3 separate regions of the Homo sapiens genome follow, and regions 2 and 3 are each linked to region 1. Evidence: fine-mapped expression QTL. A gene starts in region 1. Each other region holds a variant in brackets. All regions are shown on one strand. Distances are between the middles of the regions.

Evidence for each region. PIP is the estimated chance that this variant, and not a neighbour inherited with it, causes the effect.
Region 2: its variant is fine-mapped to the expression of ITPKB-IT1 in whole blood (TOPMed, PIP above 0.99).
Region 3: its variant is fine-mapped to the expression of ITPKB-IT1 in whole blood (TOPMed, PIP above 0.99).

The regions. Positions count from the first base shown.
Region 1 is chr1:226,673,715-226,676,469 of GRCh38, forward strand. It overlaps ITPKB-IT1 (ITPKB intronic transcript 1), which reads right to left and starts at 1,354. Exons shown (of 2, transcript NR_103784.1): 1 at 1,203-1,354. The region is part of intron 2 of ITPKB (inositol-trisphosphate 3-kinase B); the gene reads right to left. RefSeq lists a silencer at 2,336-2,485.
Region 2 is chr1:226,633,054-226,635,808 of GRCh38, forward strand. ITPKB (inositol-trisphosphate 3-kinase B) reads right to left here. Exons shown (of 8, transcript NM_002221.4): 8 at 1-1,833. The coding sequence ends at 1,618. Among named protein-coding and RNA genes, the nearest start is that of ITPKB-IT1, 41 kb to the right of the region's middle. RefSeq lists enhancers at 1-4, 2,111-2,755. The variant G/C (reference allele first, on the strand shown) is at 1,305.
Region 3 is chr1:226,652,559-226,655,313 of GRCh38, forward strand. The region is part of intron 2 of ITPKB (inositol-trisphosphate 3-kinase B); the gene reads right to left. Among named protein-coding and RNA genes, the nearest start is that of ITPKB-IT1, 21 kb to the right of the region's middle. RefSeq lists enhancers at 1,030-1,219, 1,215-1,806. The variant A/G (reference allele first, on the strand shown) is at 1,088.

The DNA of each region.
Region 1 (2,755 bases):
ATATATGCTATATATTTACACTTCTTGGCCTTTCGGCTTTATTATCTATCTCCACAAAGTAGGACAAGACAAGCTTGTTTCCCATTTAAGTTTTTCTATCTGTACTGTTTTGCAAATCCACCAGAGAGTTGCAGGACACTCCTGCTACAGAAAGATTTCTGCCAGGCAGGCTCAGAGACCTGCTCTGTTACTGTTCTATTTAATAACACAAACACACAAATGGGGGCCTTTCTTCCCCATGACTTTCATGGCATGGCTGGGGGCAGAGCTGGGAGGTTTTCACGGCCCATATATCCTCAAACTGCTCCATTTCCCCCCGATCTCAGTTGCCACCCCACTAACTCCGGGGTGATCAGCTCCATACCACAATCATCTCCTGGTGATAGAGTTCCATGGATTTTAAAAGCTGTAAGAAAAACTGAGACAGATTCAGAAGAGATTCTAGTAACCCCAAACCAGCAATTACAAATATTTTTTAAGTATTTATATATACACATTTTTTTTTGAGACAGAGTCTCACTGTTGCCCAGGCTGGAGGGCAGTGGCACCATCTCGGCTCACTGCAACCTCCAACTCCCAGGTTCAAACCAATCTCCTGCCTCAGCCTCCGAGTAGCTGGGATTACAGGCACCTGCCACCACACTTGGCTGATTTTTGTAGTTTTAGTAGAGATGGGGTTTCACCATCTTGGCCAGGCTAGTTTTGAACTCCTGACCTCGTGATCCACCCACCTCAGCCTCCCATAGTGCTGGAATTACAGGCGTGAGCCACTGTGCCTGGCCTAATTTTTGTATTTTTAGTTAGAGACGGGGTTTCACTATGTTGGCCAGGCTGGTCTCGAACTTCTGACCTCAGGTGATCTGCCCGCCTTGGCCTCCCAAAGTGCTGGGATTAAAGGAGTGAGCCACCACACCCAGCCACAAGTTTTAGATACTTAAAATACTTTTAAGTATCTAAAATTAGCACCTCTCTTTAAACCTTTTACTCACCCTTTCCTGACCCTTTCCTTGTATCCCCCATTCCCTTTCGATTTCTTCACCATCCCTATTTGCCTCCTTTTCCTCACTATCTACCCACCAAGTCCTGCTCTGCTCCCATCCCACTTAAGATTTTCGTGTCTATTCTGTATCACCCTTAATGATCCACTGAGGCTGTGAGCTTCCTGTTTACCCACAAGCGTTCAGCGGATCCAGCCATCCTACCAAGGGTTAAAGATGCTGTAGTCCTACTGTGCTGCCTCCGACCCAGTTCCTTCCAAAACAAAGCAGGATGACAAGGTGACTCCACGAGAACTGCGTTTGACCTCTGTGTGGGTTTTCTGTTTCCAAGGCCACAGCAGGGTACTCTGAAAACTCTAAACCAGAAGGAAAGGAGACCTAGCCTTCAGAACTCTGTGTGTATGTGCTTACAGGCAAAAAAAAAAAAAAAAAAAAAAAAAGGAACCAATGAGGTTGTCAGAAGGGGATACTCTGCTGTAACTGGTGTTTACCACGACCCACCGGGTGCTGAGGAGGAAGTGGTTGCTATAACCCCAAGGGGGAAACGCTCGCTTGAAACAGGAAAATAGAACTCTTACAACTTTCCATTAGCAGCGTTCAAGAAGCCGGCCACACTGGGAAACACTTGCACAAGCACTCCCCAGAGTCCTGAGACGAGTGTCAAGACAGTCCAATCACGAAGCACAGATCAGGACACAGATACAGGTCCATGTTTTTTCCAGAACGTCTCAGCACTGGAAAAACTCTCATGATCACTTCCCTTACCTCCAGCAGGCTGAACTTGCAAGGAGCTGTGGGGAGGAGGAAGGAAGGGGAAAATGGCAGGATGACATATTGGAAAGAACGCTGGGCCCAGTGAGGGTCAGAAGACCTGGGCTTTAGTCCCAGTTCTGCGATTTACTAGTGGTGGAACTTTGGGCAAATTACCCAACCTTCCTGCTTCTCGATTTCTACTTCCTCTATAAAACAGGGATATTGTTTACTGCTCTGCTCACATCCTTGGGCTGCTGTGAGAATCCTATGGAATCCTTCATAGGATGAAACTCGTATGTGCTACGCAAATGCTTGTTATCAATGTAAGATTCGAGTCTGCATAAAGCCTTCTTGAGTCCCAGCCTCTTGCTCCTCAAACGCATCCTCTCGGCTACACTTCCACCTGTGCACTTCCTCAACCCACCTTACTTGTAATTCTGCCCACACTTCTGTAGAATTTCTGTAGAAGATCCCATAGTCTGGTCAGAGGAGTATAAGCAAGTCTAAATAACCAAAGTGGGGGGATCTCAACCAAATCATTTGACTCTGGGCTCTGTGCTCCCACATTCTCTCCTCTCCAGAGGTGAAGACTTCATCCTCAATGGCTAATTTGCCTGCTTGGAGGCTCAGATTGGCCCGTGTTCTGAGTCATATTTTCCATTTAGTAAAATGAACATCTGGCTGCTGTATGATGCCTTTTGTGTACCATCACCTAAGCCACAATTACCTGCAAGGTAATTCATACCACTACAGCACGGTGCAAAAACAGGGTTGGTTTGGGATGGTGAAAGTCAGCCATCTTAGTGTCAATCTTGCATGCAAATTCTAATGAAGAAAAGCCACTACCAGCAGGTCCACACACACTCACAAAGAACTCATAAATTATTTTAATCCAAGCGTTCAAAGGGATCCTGGGTCCCAGGAACCATCCTGCTGTTTCATCTCAGTGAGAGGCAAGATGGTTAAGGAAAAACAGCTCTAGTTTCCTCCATCCCCCCAATTCC
Region 2 (2,755 bases), 41 kb before region 1:
AGGAGCTCACCACTGTTTTAAACAAGAGCCAGGAAGTGTAAGTTGATTTCCTTTTTTAAAATCTGTACTTATACATCCTCATGTGTCCCACCCTCCACCCCCAGCAAGTGTCACTCACACTTCCAGCACAAAAGGGGAAATGTACATGTCCCGTGGGCAGGTTGACAGTTCCCCAGAGACCCCGGGGTGGTGGGGTGGGCAGTGGTTCCTCCAGACACACACACCTTGGTCCATAGTCTCCCTCTGTGTCCCTAGCTCCTGGACTCTCCCAGCTCCTGTACCTCTGACAGCAAAGGAGTGGGTGGCAAGCCCCAAGGAGCATGGGGCACAGAGCTGGGGGTTTTGTTCTTAAGAAGTCAGGCAAATTTTACATTCCCTTCCATATCAGACTCACTGGCTTTCAGTTAAAATTGGGCTTAAATAGGTTCTCCACGAATCTCCAAATGCAGAGACTTCAGGAAGAGGTGCCTGGAGCACGCCCTGGCATCCACCACATACCCTACAAGATACCCACACTACATTGGAGAAGCAGGAATCTAAGCCCTCCAGGCAGTAAGGCTTGTTTCAGAGGCAATAACAAATGATGCCAGGAGGCCACCGCGGCACCTCTGGAAGCCAGAAGCCTGCCTTCTTCCTGCCTGGCGCAGACCTGAGCTCCTCCCCTATTTCTATATCTGCAAGGGACTCTGGGCCCCATGACAGGAGCCCATGTATGCAGGCAGGGTTGACCAACTAGCACCAGGTAGGTGAGGGTCAAGAAAAATGTGCTCCTCCCTGGGGCCAGGGCCCAGAGACTCTATAGATCCCATCTTCCCCTGGTAGCACCCTTGGAGCTCAGCATGGCAGAGTGTGCCTTCTGAACTCATGGGTTGCAATTCCAAGTGGCACAGCTTCTGCTCGCCTCCTCTGGGAAGGCCTAGATCAGAGAACACAGCCAAGCTGGCTTCAGCCTTCTCTTGGCTCCTGGGTCTGGCCTGGAGCCGGCAGGTTTCCATACCAGATGGGTGGGGGGCCTTGCCTGAGCAGCCCTGGAGAGGCCACCAGGGCATCCCTGAGGCTGCTAATCGGAAGACACTTTGCTCACAGTCAACATGTGGTTCCCCGATGGTTTTGTGCCCCAACTACCAGAAAGCCCTGCTCCCAGCCAGGGACCAGGAACCCGGCCGGCCCCCTGGGCTCTCCGGTGGGGAGGCCCCGGCAGAAATAAGGCTGTGCTTGGCAGCACTCTAACAGCACTGGCCGCCAGGGGGCAGCAGGCCTCCGCAGGTGGTAGGTCCAGGCTGGTGCTTCCTAGGGGGCTCCCA[G/C]AGGCAGGGCTCATCTGGTAGGGTCCCCTCAGCAGCCAGGGACCCCCTCCAGCTCTACACCTGACCCACCTCTAAGACTGGGCATTTCTCTTCTAGTAGGTGACCCTCTCTACAAAAAGCAGTGCAAACACCACCTCCAAGCCCTGAAGTTAGGAAAATGACTAGAAACTCTCATCTCCTCTTCTACAAAGTGTCTTGTAGTGCAGTTCAGGAGGGTCAGTCAGGTGTAAGTGAAGGAAAAGTTAGGAACGAGAAAGGAAGCACAGGAGGAGGAAAGGAGGCCCAGGCGGGGGCCAGGGAGGGCGTGGGCAGCTCAGGCGAGTGGGGCATCCTGGGACATCTCGGTCAGGATGTCGACGAGGTTATTGAGCCCCGAGAGGTAGCCATCCTCCCGGTTCCCCTCCTGCCAGGGGACGTCATGCTGCAGGGTCTGGCCCTCAGGCAGGGGCGTGGTTTTCCCAAAGTCGATCATCCACACTTTGGCCTGTTCCTTCTTGTCGTGGATGAAGAGGAGGGAGCTGCCAATGACCTGAGGAGAACATGGGGGTGAAGGGTGAGCTGAAGCCCGGGCCTCGCCCTCCCCACTGCGGCCCGGGGCCTGGGTGACCAGGTGGGGAGGCTCGCTCAGGCCGGACAGTTGGGTGCCTGCAATTCCAATCCCCATTTTCAGACAGGCAGCAGAGCCGGCCCAAGAATGGCCATGCCTGGGCAGAGGGCATCGGGTTCCAGGGTCGGCGACCACCCTTCTGTGTGGGCAGCAGCAGGCACCCCTTCACCCCCTGACTCTGGCCTGCACACTTTCCACTCCTTCCCTCCCTCTTTCTTTCCTTCCTTCCTGCCTTCCTTCTTTTCCTTCCTTTCTTCCCTTCCTTCCTTCCTTCCAGACAGGGTCTTACTCTGTCGCCCCAGCTGGAGTGCAGTGGTGCAACCTCAGCTTACTGTAGCCTTGATCTCCTAGGCTCAAGCGATCCTCCCACCACAGCCTCCCGAGTAGTTGGGACTACAGGCATGCACCACGATGCCCGGCTAACTTTTTGTTTTTTATTTTTGTAGAGACAGGGTTTCACTATGTTACCCAGGCTGGTCCCAAACTCCTAAGCTCAAGCCATTCTCCTGCCTTGGCCTCGGAAAGTGCTGAGATTACGGGCATGAATCACACTGCACCTGGGCAAACTTTCCACTCTTTCTAGACCACAACCCAATCTGGGGCCTCGCCCTTCCGCCTCCTAGAACCTGACTCCTCCCAAACACTCTGCAGGGAACCACAGTGAAGGGGAAGGTGCCCAGGAGCGTCCAAACTATCCCGGGGCGGGGGTGGTGAAGAACCTGTTTCAAATGCACACAGCACCCCCACCCCAGCAGCACAACCCCTGCAGATTCAGCGTGGGCAGACCCTATAGGGCCTTCCCAGCCTGGCCCAGGGATAGTGGGCACCAAAGAGCCTGCCCCTC
Region 3 (2,755 bases), 21 kb before region 1:
CTCTTCTCTGTCTGAAATCAGACCCCGTCCCAGGTCTCCAGCCTCTCAAGCCCAGCTCTAGGAAATACAAAAGTGGCCTTCAAATGCCTTGAACGTGGTGTGGCAAAGGGTACCTGGTCCCCTGCCCAGGGCAGAGCTGGCCACCTGCTCCTGCATCACCTCCCAGTCATCAGGGGAATCGAGACATCCCTTGTGGACACCTCCCGGAGTGCTCCCAAAGCTCCCTATGTGTGGCAGGTCCCTGCTGGCCTCCTGGGGCTGTGAGCCTCTCTTTGGCAGACCTGGGGCAGGTGGCCAGCTCTGCTGTGACCCTTACTTCCTCACACACAGATGTGGGGTCGGCCTAGCCAGTGGATGTGCTGGGTTTCTTCCTAAGCTGGCTGAGTAGTACTGTGCAGGGGGACTTGCTGCTGGCCGGCATTGCTTTTGTCATCTCTCGGGGAGATAGGAGGGCCCATTTCTGCAGGCGTGCACCAGTACCATGGCACGGTGTGTACACTCATACCTGTTACCACTTATGGGGCTCTCGCTATGTGACAGGCCCGGGTTAGAGAATTATGGCCTTGTTCCTATGTTCTAGTTAGGAGTGTTTTCTCCATTTTACAGATGAAAGAGTCTGAGGCTCAGCAAGTTACTTCTCCAAAGTCATCCCATTCTATGCCCTGCCAGTAGGTACCATGCACATGGGGAGCCTCTAGCCAGTTCACCCACTTCCGTGCCTATCAACGAGTGAGGGCCCACCTCCGAGTGCCCCTTCCAGTCTCGAGACAGCAGGATGAGGGGACAAGAGGCAGAAGACTGGGCAGGAAGGACAAGAGCAAGATTCCTCCAGGGCGGTTCCCCTGGACAGCCAGGGTGCCAGCCCAGTGAAGTTTTCTGGCTGCTCCGTTAGCAGAGGAGCCCAGGGCCCCTGGTGCCCCTAAAGCTGGCCACCGAAACCCCAGATACATCCCTCCCTGGGGCTGCTCAGGTGCCACTTCCGGTGCAGCTGTCAGATGACACAAGGTTTAAGCTCTCCCATGTGTCAGATCAGAGCAGCCAGACACTTCTAGACTCCGGATGGAGTTCTGCACTTGTGATGTTCTTG[A/G]GGACACTTCGGTGGAAAGGAAAGCACCACAACGCAGGGGTGCCCCTGGGTAGGTAAAGGGCAGTGGAGTGGGCTGGAGACACACGGCTTTTACTTTGATTCTGGGCAGGGTGGTTAAACCAACTGAAGACCAGGCATGAGGTCTTTCAGGTAACCCCCGGCCTCACAGGCTTGGATGCGAACCAGCTGGGGAACTCCCTAGGTGGCTGCACTCCTGGTTACAAGAGCACTGGTCTGAGCTTTGCTTAGCTGCTCCTCTGCAGGCAGGGTGGGCAGTGCCTGCTGCTGACATTTGTCACCCCTGCCTGTTGCAACCTGGACCCTGCTCTGTAAGAGAGTCTCGTGCTGAACTCCAGAAGCGCAGGGAAAGATGGAGCTTCAATTCACTCAGAGAAATGTGGAAAGAAAGGATCAGAAAACAGCCGGACCAGGGTGAGGGAGGGGTGGTGGTGGTGGGGAGGGGAGTGATTCTTTGAAACTCAAGAGAGGCCTGGAGACCTCTGGTGTGGTTTTGTCCCCTGGCACCCGACTTGAAAGAGCTAAAATATTCAGAGAATGTGGAGAGAGATTTGTAGTGGGAGGGAAAAAATCTGACAACAAAACCCCAACCATCTTTGCATTGGAGGAGACAGGAAGTCAGAGGCGAAGGGAGCTTGAGGAGCCGGCAGACAGCAGCCACATTCCCCTGCAACAGAGAGAAGCCTGCCCCAGCTCCCGATTCTGCTCCCCACGTCACCTGGGAGTAGGAAGCCCTCGCCTTGGGGAAGCTCAGGGCATGCCACATTTTGTCTCCCTTTTCCTCTTCCCCTTTTCCCAGAAGTTCCTGGTCTGAAGAGCAGATGGGAATCTACTCCCTGGGGGCCAAGGCCTACACAGAATGATCTCCTCCTGCTCAACACACAGAGCCATAAAACAGACCCAGGGTTCTGTGGCAGGTGGGTGTGGAGCCTTCCTGGGCAAGCAGTTACTCCTCCCCACCTCCAGCCCATCCTTGGAGCTGCCCCGAGCCAGTGGGGCTGCCTGGGGAGGGTCTGATTCTGTGTGTTTTTCTGGATCAAGTCCCAACCCTCCCGTGATGCTAACGGTTCCTGGGTGACGCCATCCTCCCCGGGTCCTTCCCATCAGGCATCCTCAGTCATGCTGTACGGAAACACTGCCTTCAACAAATCAGAGGGCAAACGGGCATAACCTCCAGGTCTAGCCTTTGTCGTTCATAAGGCAGGCAAAAAAGGACTGCTGGGGACAGGGGAAGAGGAGGAAGGAGGAAGAGGAAGAAGAGGAGAAGAGTGAAGAGGGGGAGGAGGAAGAGGAGGGAGGAGGGAGGAAGAAGAGGAGAGAGAAGGGAGAGCAGGAGGAGGGTACGAAGAGGAAAGAGGAGGAGGAAGAGGACAGGGAAGAGGAGAGAAGAAGGAAGAAGAGGAGGTGGGGAGGAGGGGAGGAGGAAGAGGAGGGCAGGAGGAAGAAGAGGGAGGAAGGAGGGGAAGGAGAGACCCAGGTTTACCCTACTCTAGGCTGTGGGGATGTGTGGGCCTCTGGCCACCCCACTTACAAAATGCTTTAGCTATCATCAGGATCATCTACATAACATGCAAAATGAAAATGAGGGGTCCCTTGTCCAAAATTCAGTAAGAATGTCATGATGGGGAAAGCAGAACTTCACCAAGCTCG